Regions from separate parts of the Homo sapiens genome. Here region 2 is linked to region 1. The links come from fine-mapping of genetic effects on gene expression. A gene starts in region 1. The other region holds a variant in brackets. All regions are shown on one strand. Distances are between the middles of the regions. Region 1 holds the start of EPHB4 (EPH receptor B4). Region 2 overlaps ZAN (zonadhesin).

What was found.
Region 2: its variant is fine-mapped to the expression of EPHB4 in whole blood (TOPMed, PIP 0.92).

The regions. Positions count from the first base shown.
Region 1 is chr7:100,824,880-100,830,223 of GRCh38, reverse strand. EPHB4 (EPH receptor B4) reads left to right here and starts at 2,701. Exons shown (of 17, transcript NM_004444.5): 1 at 2,701-3,245. The coding sequence starts at 3,194. It also overlaps a transcript of SLC12A9 not described here. RefSeq lists enhancers at 310-1,105, 1,902-2,697.
Region 2 is chr7:100,747,312-100,752,677 of GRCh38, reverse strand. It overlaps ZAN (zonadhesin), which reads right to left. Exons shown (of 48, transcript NM_003386.3): 9 at 5,037-5,128; 10 at 4,463-4,541; 11 at 4,208-4,354; 12 at 1,782-2,053; 13 at 1,412-1,496; 14 at 1-966. Among named protein-coding and RNA genes, the nearest start is that of ZAN, 16 kb to the right of the region's middle. The variant C/T (reference allele first, on the strand shown) is at 2,852.

The sequences.
Region 1 (5,344 bases):
TGCACCACCACACCTGGCTAAGTTTTGTATTTTCAGTAGAGAAGGGGTTTCACTATGTTGGCCAGGCTGGTCTCGAACTCCTGACCTCAGGTGATCCGCCTGCCTCGGCCTCCCAAAGTGCTGGGATTACAGGTGTGAGCCACTGCGCCCAGCCTATTTATTTATTTACTTATTTATTTACTTTATATATTTTTTGGAGACAGAGTGTGGCTCTGTTGCCCAGGCTGGAGTGCAGTGGTGCAATCTCTGCTCACTGCAACTTCTGCCTCCCGGGTTCAAGCGATTCTCGTGCCTCAGCCTCCCTAGTAGCTGGGACTACAGGTGTGTGCCATGATGCCCAGCTGATTTTTGTATTTTTAGTAGAGAGGGGTTTCACCATGTTGGCTAGGCTGGTCTCGAACTCTTGGGCTCAAGTGATCCACCCGCCTCGGCCTCCCAAAATGCTGAGATTACAGACCTGAGCTACTGTCCCCAGCCAGAAGACATAACTTTTAGAGGCTACAGGATCTGGGTACAGAGTGAGAGTGGCAAAAGGCAGGGCAGGGGTTTGGGAGAGGGTTGCAGAGAACCCCGAGGGAGAAGCTGAATAAGAGAAGGGGAGACTGGGCCTGCATCGGGGAGGGAGGAGGGAATTCCCAGCTCCAGCCTGGTCTGCCTGGCTCCAGTGAAGCCGGCTGTTTCCTGCCCTCGGTGACCGGCCCACCCCCCCCAACCCGGGCGCAGGACCCAGGCAGAACAGCAAGGAAGGGCAGGGGTGTGGGGAACACCTCTTGCAGCAGGAAGATAAGTAAGCCGGGACAAGAGGTTATCACAGGCCCGGCTGTCCTTTCTGGGACGTAAGGGCGCTTGGCAGCCCCCCAAGCATCCTGGACTCCAACGTCTCTCTTGCTGGGCTCCAACGTCTCTCTTGCTGGGCTCCTCAAGATTCTGTCCTCCGGCTGGGCGCGGTGGCTAACGTCTGTAATCCCAGCACTTTGGGAGGCCAAGGTGGGTGGATCACTTTAGGTCAGGAGTTCGAGACCAGCCTGGCCAACATGGCGAAACCCTGTCTCTACTAAAAATACGAAAACTAGCCGGGGTTGGTGCCCTGTGCCTGTAATCCCAGCTACTCGGGAGGCTGAGGCAGGAGAATCGCTTGAACCTGGGAGGCGGAGGTTGCAGTGAGCCCAGATCACGCCACTGCACTCCAGCCTGGGAAATAGAGGGAGACTCTGTCTCAAAAAAAAAAAAAAAATCTGTCCCCGCTAATTACTGTGGGAGTCTAAGTCCTTTCCTTCTGCCCCTTGGAGGGGCTGACTCCTGGAGCAGCACCCCCTCCAATCCATCTATCCAGTAACCCATACTGTTAAGTTCCCTGAAGTAGAAGGGGGTTGGTGGGAGGAGCACGGCTGTGCTGGACCCTCCCCGCTAACTGATGGGAGGGTGAGGGGAGTTGGCAGTGAGAGGAAGGGCCCCTCCCAGCCATCCCGAGGGCCCCCAGGAGCCAGACAGGAAACAGCTCAGGAAAGACAGCAGCCGCAGCCGCAGCCCCAGCCTCAGGGGTCATGGCTGCGGGCGGCGGGGAAGCCCCCCCAAAACACGAGAGTGAGAGTGAGAAGGGCGATTTGGAGATCTAGCCGGACCCCTCACCCTCTCGGACACACCCACCTTTTTTTTTTTTTTTTTTTTTTTTGAGATTTCGTCTCACTCTGTAGCCCAGGCTGGAGTGCAGTGGCGCGATCTCAGCTCCCAGCTCACTGCAACCTCCGCCTCCTAGGTCCCGGTTCAAGCAATTCTCCTGCCTCAGCCTCCCGAGTAGCTAGGATTACAGGCGCGCGCCACCATGCCCAGCTAATTTTTGTATTTTTAGTAGAGACGGGGTTTCATCATGTTGGCCAGGCTGGTCTTGAACTCCTGACCTCAAATGATCCGCCTGCCTCTGCCTCCCAAAATGCTGGGACTACAGGCGTGAGCCACCGCGCCCGCCACACCCACCTTTTCTTTACCGTTGTTTCCTCGATTTTTCTCTACTCCCTAGCGCAGCTTAGTGCGCGCCTCCTCTGGACATTTTTCAGGGCTTGGTTGCGCGCACAGTAGGTCCCCAACACTGAATGTTTATGGGGTGACTGTGTGAACGTTCGCTGCAAGGCTATCCAAACTGGGATTGCTCCTTGAGGCCCCCTGGGCGGCCGTCAATTCTCCAAAGCTTCTACTCCCTTTTCCTTCCTTTTCCCCCAAAACGCAGTCCCTGCGCCCACTAGAGGGTGGTGGGCGCATCCAAGAGCGGCATCTAGAGTCCGCAGCAAGGTCAGAGCGGGCTTTGTGTGCGCGGTGAACATTTACGTGCACGCCTGGGCGGCCCTCCGTGTTGCTGCTGGGTGTGTGTTTTCTCTGCTCCCTGGTGCCAGCCGGGTTCGGGCCTGTCCCGGGGGTCCCTGGGCCCCAGCCCCGACATGCTCGGTCCTGGACAGCGCGCACCGCCACGGCGCACATCTGGGCGGTCCCGGGGTTCCTCACCCGCCGCCCCTCCCCCTTCTCCAAACTTTCTCTCAACTTCCCGACCTGCTCCACTCGGTGCCCCTCTCCGCTTCCCTCATGAATTATTCAGTAGCGTGAGCTCCAATCAGCGCGCCCGGGGCTCACTCGCGGAGCCCCCGCGTTGGGAGAGCTGCCCCCGCCCCCCGCGCGCCCCTCCCTCCCGGGCCCGGCGCCGCCCGGCCCAGTTCCAGCGCAGCTCAGCCCCTGCCCGGCCCGGCCCGCCCGGCTCCGCGCCGCAGTCTCCCTCCCTCCCGCTCCGTCCCCGCTCGGGCTCCCACCATCCCCGCCCGCGAGGAGAGCACTCGGCCCGGCGGCGCGAGCAGAGCCACTCCAGGGAGGGGGGGAGACCGCGAGCGGCCGGCTCAGCCCCCGCCACCCGGGGCGGGACCCCGAGGCCCCGGAGGGACCCCAACTCCAGCCACGTCTTGCTGCGCGCCCGCCCGGCGCGGCCACTGCCAGCACGCTCCGGGCCCGCCGCCCGCGCGCGCGGCACAGACGCGGGGCCACACTTGGCGCCGCCGCCCGGTGCCCCGCACGCTCGCATGGGCCCGCGCTGAGGGCCCCGACGAGGAGTCCCGCGCGGAGTATCGGCGTCCACCCGCCCAGGGAGAGTCAGACCTGGGGGGGCGAGGGCCCCCCAAACTCAGTTCGGATCCTACCCGAGTGAGGCGGCGCCATGGAGCTCCGGGTGCTGCTCTGCTGGGCTTCGTTGGCCGCAGCTTTGGAAGGTGAGTTTCCTTGCGGGGGGGGGCGCACCCCGTCACTCCTGGGACCTCCCCCCCAACATCTGGGCCTCGGAGTGGAGGGGCCGGCCTCTGACTACCCCTACCCGGGCACTGCAGTCCCAAACACTTCGGACCGATAGTGCTGGAACGGGAGGGGGGCGGGGAAGAGGCGCCCGACGGGTAGTGGAGTTTTCTTTTGTTTGGGAAAGAGATGGAGTCTGGCTACGACCCGGGACATTCCCCTGCCCGGGCTCCCCGAACTCTCACTGCTGATTACATACGCCCCTGGCTGCCTTTCCTTTCCTCCCTACCCCACTATTCAAAACTATCTGCAAAGTTTCTGTCCCAGTCCCACCTCCCGCCGTACATGAGGGAAGGTTTCTGGAGAAGCAACAGCAGACAAGGCACAACTTTTCGTGCTAGGCCCTAAAACGACCCCCAGCGCCAATTCCTTAGCGATCACACCTTGATCCTCCAGTTCCACACTCCTGCAACAGGATGGCCTCCTTTGCATTCACACAGCAAACCCCCAAACCGCTCTCCCGCCCACTGCTCCTGCCCCTGGTATAGGGTGGCTCCTTGGTTTCTACAGGCTGCACCCCATCCCTTTAAATGCGGTCTAGACCCCGGCCCCAGGTGAGTCCCGGGCTTCCCTTGAGACCTAGGAGCGGGTAGAAACTGACCTACACAGCCCCCAGGTAGAAACTGACCTACACAGCCCCCACATCGCCCTAACTAACCCAGTCTATCTCCCACCTCCTGGTCTCTCCAAGCATTTCTTTGGCCATGGATCGCTGTCCCTCCTGGTCCCCTAAAGGGGGAGCCAAGAGCCCTAGAAACTCTCCTGTGTCCCTAATGTCCTTTCAGTGAGCTGCCAACACCCCCCTTTCTCTGTCTGGTATGAAAGTGGTTATGGGGCGGTAGGCTATGAGGGACTCCCAAAGGGAAGGATTCAGCGGCGTTAGAAAAACCCTCTCCCCCTGGCTGGGCAGGACTGCCCTGGGCTGGGGATCAAAGGCTAGGTGTGGGGTTGGGAGTGAGGGGAGGCTTGCCCAGCTCAGAGAACGGAGAAGGGGGAACAAAAACCATGAACGAGGGGAAGAGGAAGGCCAAAGGGGTGGAAAAACCACGAGGACGAGGTGTGGTGAGAAGGAAAGACGCAAAGAGGAAATGGTGATTGTGACACCTATTACCTGAGTGTTTCCAAGCACCAGGCCTGTGCTGAGCGCCTTACAAATATTAATTTCACCCATCCAGCAACGCTAAGGGTGGTGCTATTATTGCCCCCATTTTTCAGATGAGGAGGCTGGGGCTTAGTTAAGGTTAAGTAGTTTATCCAAGGCCCTGTGCCGCGAGGAACAGCGAGAAGTGGAGGCCGAAAGCGAAGGAGAGATAGTGACTGTCAGAAAGAGAAACGGAGGTGGACAGAGAGTGGAGGAGAGATAGGTGAGAGACATGCGAACTGACAGATCAAAGCGTGGCTGCAGCTGAGCTGGGACGCAGAAAGGGAGCCTGCGCTTGCTCTGGGCTGCGGACAGCCCGAGGCAGAGACAGTGTGTAAATTGGAGACAGGAAAACACTATCCCGGCTGGAACAATGGAGGGTGGAGACGGCAGCCTCTATCCACCCCCTTCCCAGAACCCGGGCATCCTGTCCCCAGTGAGCAGGGCTGTCTCTTGCCACCCATGGGGACCTTGCGCCTCTCACCTCAGGCTGGCTGGCTTCCCATCTGACCCCTAGCTGGAGGACATCATTTGGTCCCCAGGAAGAGGCTGCCTCACCCACCCTCTTTCTCTTCTCTCCTGCAGCTCCCATGGGGTGGGAGCCAGGTGTTCTGGCTCCCCTCTCCACCCTTCCCAGCGCCCAATGCCCCCCACATTGCCGGCCCCCGAGGGGATTCCTGTACCCTCCCTCCTCCACTCTCCACTGCCAGGGGCTGTGCAGTTTTTCCTAATCCCCCCCCTTCCTCCAGTGCCTGTCCCCTCCCCCGATGATCCGAGCCAAGCCAGGTGTGTTCACCCCTCCCATTCATACCGCCCCCCAGAATCTCCTCCCCTCTGCCTTCCCATAACCAAATCCAGATGTGAGGCCTCGGCGGGAGC
Region 2 (5,366 bases), 78 kb after region 1:
TGGGTTTTTCTGTGGAGATGGTGGGTTTTTCCATGGGGATGGTGAGTTTTTCTGTAGAGATGGTAGTCTCTTCAACAGAGGTGGTGGTTTCTTCAGTGGGGAGAGTGGGTTTTTCCATGGGGATGCTGGGTTTTTCTGTGGAGATGGTGGTCTCCTCAGTGGGGGTGGTGGGCTCTTCTGTGGAGATGGTGGGTTTTTCTGTGGGAATGGTGGGTTTTTCTGTGGGGATGGTGGGTTTTTCTGTGGGGATGGTGAGTTTTTCTGGGGAGATGGTGGGTTTTTCTGTGGGGGTGGTGGGTTTTTCTGGGGAGATGGTGGGTTTTTCTGTGGGGATGGTGGGTTTTTCTGTGGGGGTGGTGGGTTTTTCTGGGGAGATGGTGGATTTTTCTGTGGGGATGGTGGGTTTTTCTGTGGGGATGGTGGGTTTTTCTGGGGAGATGGTGGGTTTTTCTGTGGAGATGATAGTCTCTTCCATGGAGATGGTGGGTTTTTCCGTGGGGATGCTGGGTTTTTCTGTAGGGATGCTGGGTTTTTCTGTAGGGATGACAGGCTCTTCCATGGAGGTGGTGGTCTCCTCAGTGGGGGTGGTGGGCTCTTCTGTGGGGACGGTGGGTTTTTCTGTGGAAATGGTGGGTTTTTCTGAGGGAATGGTGGGTTTTTCTGAGGGAATGGTGGGTTTTTCTGTGAGGATGGTGGGTTTTTCTGAGGGAATGGTGGGTTTTTCTGAGGGCATGTTGGGTTTTTCTGAAGGAATGGTGGGTTTTTCTGTGGAGATGGTGGGTTTTTCTGTGGGAATGGTGGGCTTTTCTTTGGGGACTGTGGGCTTTTCTGTGGTGACACTGGGTTTTTCTATGGAAACTGTAGGTTTCTTGGTGGAGATTGTAGGGTTTTCTGTGAGGCCAGTGGTTTCAGAAGGGCCAGTGGAAGAAACTGGAGATACGGGAGGAAGCTCTGGTAGCACTTTTACTGCAAAGAAAAATAAGAATCCCTGGAGTTTAGTCAAAACCATACCACCACCCTCTTTACTGCCATCTAACTGGAGTGGGCTCCCATGGGTGGCTTATTCACACCTCTCTTTCTACTCCCAAACCCCAACCTTCATCCACTCAACGAACACTAATATATGTCAGATATTATGCCAGAAATGAATAGGATATGGGTCCAGCCTTCAAGACTGCAGAGGAAGGAGTTCTGGATCCAGCCCCCAAAATCCATGGTATCGAAGCCACATTCACCCAGGCAAACATCTTGAAGTGCAGGGGAAGGAGAGGTGTGTTGAAGATGGAAAACAAAGCCAGCTGGGTGAGAATTCGGGCTCCAGGGAGGACTCACATTTTAAGCAGTTCATAGAGAGAACTCCAGGGAACCTCAGGGCACCGCCCCCTTCCTGGAGCCTGGGCTTTGGTCTTACCTGGACAAGTCCCAGGATTGATCAAGATGAAACCCATAGCAACCACAGAGGCCGTGTTGCTTCCCTGGATGCCCTTGAAAATAAGCTAAAGGCGACAAGGGAGAGAGACGGAGAGAGAAACAAAAATGAATCTCCAGCAACTCTGTGATTCCACTGGGCATAGAATCTGTTCTCTGCCAAAATGTCGCCTTGTTCCAGCCTCAACAGTCCAGCCCCATCCCGGCCCCTTTCTCACTTTCTGTAACACGAAGTTCCCCTTTTCTCGGCTCTCTTTCCAGCTTTCCACCTCTTCAGCACTGGTGGCGCCCCCAGATCCCAGGCATTGGCCCTCTCACCTCACACAGACAGGACCCCCGCCTCCGTCTCTCACCTGCATGGGCTGTTGGTGTCCTGAGGGGACGGTGACGGAGGTGTTCTGCCAGTAAGGGCGCTGAGACCCCACGCGTTTCCAGAGAGGAATCGGGGGACTCCCCGCAGGACTTCCCAGGAGGAGTTCGAGCATAGTACCCTCCCCAAGGCCATACATGTGGTATGCGAACTCCACGCAGATGTCACCTGGGGCGCAGAAGGGCCGGCTCACCAGTCTGACTGACTGGCCTGCCTGGGAGAACTCGTCAGCCTCAAGGTAGATATAGTGACCCCCTAGGCAAAGGAAGGGAACAGGCAAGGTAAGAAGCCTGCACAGGACATGCCAACTGCTGCTTTAGCAAAGCTTTGCTTTCTGAACGGGAATCTGAGCAAACACTCAAATTTCCCAGGTCGTAGCATTATTTTTTCTGCTCATTTTAGACATCTAACTAAAGAAGGTGGGATCACAAAGAAAGGGAAAAGCGGCCAGGCACGGTGGCTCATGCCTGTAATCCCAGCACTTTGGGAGGCCGAGGCTGGCGGATCACGAGGTCAAGAGATCAAGGCCATCCTGGCCAACATGGTGAAACCCCGTCTCCACTAAAAATACAAAAATTAGCTGGGCGTGGTGGCCCGTGCCTGGAGTCCCAGCTACTCGGGAGTCTGAGGCAGGAGAATTGCTTGAACTCCGGAGGTGGAGGTTGCAGTGAGCCAAGATCACGTCACTGCACTCCAGCCTGGCAACAGAGCAAGACTCCATCTCAAAAAAGAAAAAAAGGGAATAACAAACCAGCAACCTAGATTACATTCATTAATGTCGTGTGTGTGTGTGTGTGTGTGTGTGTGTGTGTGTGTGTGTTGTTTTTTTGAGATGGAGTCTCGCTCTGTTGCCCAGGCTGGAGTGCAGTGACACGATCTCAGCTCACTACAACCTCCACCTCCCAGGTTCAAGCGATTGTCCTGCCTCAGCCTCCCAAGTAGCTGGGATTACAGGTGTGTACCACCATGTCTGGCTAATTTTTGTGTTTTTAGTAGAGGTGGGGTTTCACCATGTTGGCCAGGCTAGTCTTGAACTTTCGGCCTCAAGTGATC[C/T]ACCCGTCTCAGCCTCCCAAAGCATTGGGATTACAGGTGTGAGCCACTGCACCCCACCCTCATTATTGTCTTTTTAAAAAATTATTTCTTTATATATATATATGTGTGTGTGTGTATATATATATGTGTGTATATATATGTGTGTGTGTGTATATATATATATATATATATATATTTTTTTTTTTTTGAGACGGAGTCTCACTCTGTCACCCAGGCTGGAGTACAATGGCGTGATCTCGGCTCACTGCAAGCTCTGCCTCCCGGGCTCACGCCATTCTCCTGCCTCAGCCTCCCGAGTAGCTGGGACTACAGGCGCCCACCACCATGCCTGGCTAATTTTTTGTGTTTTTAGTAGGGACGGGGTTTCACCGTGTTAGCCAGGATGGTCTCGATCTCCTGACCTTGTGATCCGCCCTCCTTGGCCTCCCAAAGTGCTGGGATTACAGGTGTGAGCCACTGCGCCCAGCCTCTTTTTATATATTTTTAAGACAGAATCTTACTCTGTTGCCCCGGATGGAGTGCAGTGGTGCGATCTCAGCTCACTGCAGTCTCCACCTCCTGGGGTCAGGCAGTTCTCCTGCCTCAGCCTCCTGAGTAGCTGGGACTACAGGTGCACGCCACCACTCCCGGCTAATTTTTACATTTTTTTTAGTGGAGTCAGGGTTTCACTATGTTGCCCAGCTGGTCTCGAACTCCTGACCTCAAGTGATCCACCTGCCTCGGCCTCCCAAAGTGCTGGAATTAAAGGCGTGAGCCACCATGCCTGGCCTATTTTTTTATTTTTAATTTTTAGAGACAAGGTCTTGCTCTGTTGCCCAGGCTGGAGTGCACTGGTTCAATCATAGCTCACTGCAGCCTTGACTTCTGAGCTGAAGCGATCCTCCCACATCAGCCTCGCAAGTAGGTGGGACCACAAGCACACACCACCACATCTAGCTAATTAAAAAAAAATTTTTTTTTCTAGAGATGGGGTTCTCACTATGTTGCCCAGGCTGAGCTCAGACTCCTGGGCTCAAGCAATCTTCCCGTCTCGGCCTCTCAAAGTGCTGGAATTGCAGGCATGAGCCACTCATAAACGTCTAGACTGAAAATGAGGTGGTGGGTTTTGAAGCTTTGGGCTCCATGAAGTGAGATGCCTGGGTTTTCTCAGGATTTCAGTGACCCCCCAGCCCTGAGAATCTTTAAGTTACTCTGCTATCTCCACAATTCCAGTACCATGGAAACTTCCGAAAAAACACCTGTGGACTGATCTTCCCACTGCCTGAAACAACGTCTCCCATCAGTCACAGCAGCCAGCCTGCTACCTGGGAGCAGACTGAGTGATTTCTTGGCGTGAGCGCTCCTCAATCTCCTCACCTGCATTAGGGAAACCTCCCGCAGGGCCCATGCCATGGACGGGTCCATTTTTATGTCCGAGGGCCCAGTGTCCACCATCCCCGGAAGTCTGGACCCAGTCACAGAAGGGATGGGCGTTGTCTTCAAAGTCACACTGAGGAAAACCCTCTGGGGGATCAAAATAGGATATTTGAGCAAGTTGAGTGACGCTCTCCAGCCCTCCCCCAGCCCACCCCGGATTCTGAGAGATCCGGGCCTCTCAGGGCCTGCTCTCACCCCCACAAGGAGCAATGCTGGTTGCATCAACTGCCACAGCTGGCTCTGGGGTCTTTCCAAAAACGCCTACCACGGCAAACTGGAGAGAAAGGGAGATGGAGCAGGAGTGAGCACACAGCCCACACCCCCAAGCCCCTGATCTAACTCGACTCCATTCCAGGACCCAGAATCCCTACTCCCTGTGCCCAGACCCTCAATTCAGTTCTTTCTTTCTTTTTTTTTTTTTTTCAGAGTCTTGCTCTATTGCCCAGGCTGGAGTACAGTGGTGTGATCATAGCTCACTGCAGCCTTGACCTCCAGGGCTCAAGTGATCCTCCCACCTCAGGCTCCCTAGTAGCTGGGACTACAGGCACACATCACTGTGCCCGCCTAATTTTTGTATTTTTTTGTAGAGATGGGGTCTTTCTATGTTGCCCAGGCTGGTCTTGAACTCCTGTCCTGAAGCGATCCTCCCTCCTCAGCCTCCCAAAGTATTGGGAATACAGGCATGAGCCACAGCACCAGGCCCCTCAATTTATTTCAACATTGGGTGTGCCTACCATGTGCAAGGACCTGACCCCTTGCTTCTCTGTACCTGTATCCGTCCCACGGCTGTGTAATTGACAGAAACAGCCTGCCAGTTGGGCCCAGGTTGTCCTGAGAAGAGAGTGTGTTTCCGGATACTCCCTGCAGTGAAAGGAATTGGAAGGAGAAGTGAGCTTAAGGGGACTGGGAAACGACTTTGAACTATACCTAGGAGGATGAGGAGCAGAGGGCATAGCTGGGGACGATTACCACCAAATGAAAGCACAATCTTCTTTTTTATTTTATTTATTCATTATTTTTTTTTGAGATGGAGTATTGCTCTGTTGCCCAGGCTGGAGTGCAGTGGCACTATCTTGGCTCACTGCAACTTCTGTCTCCC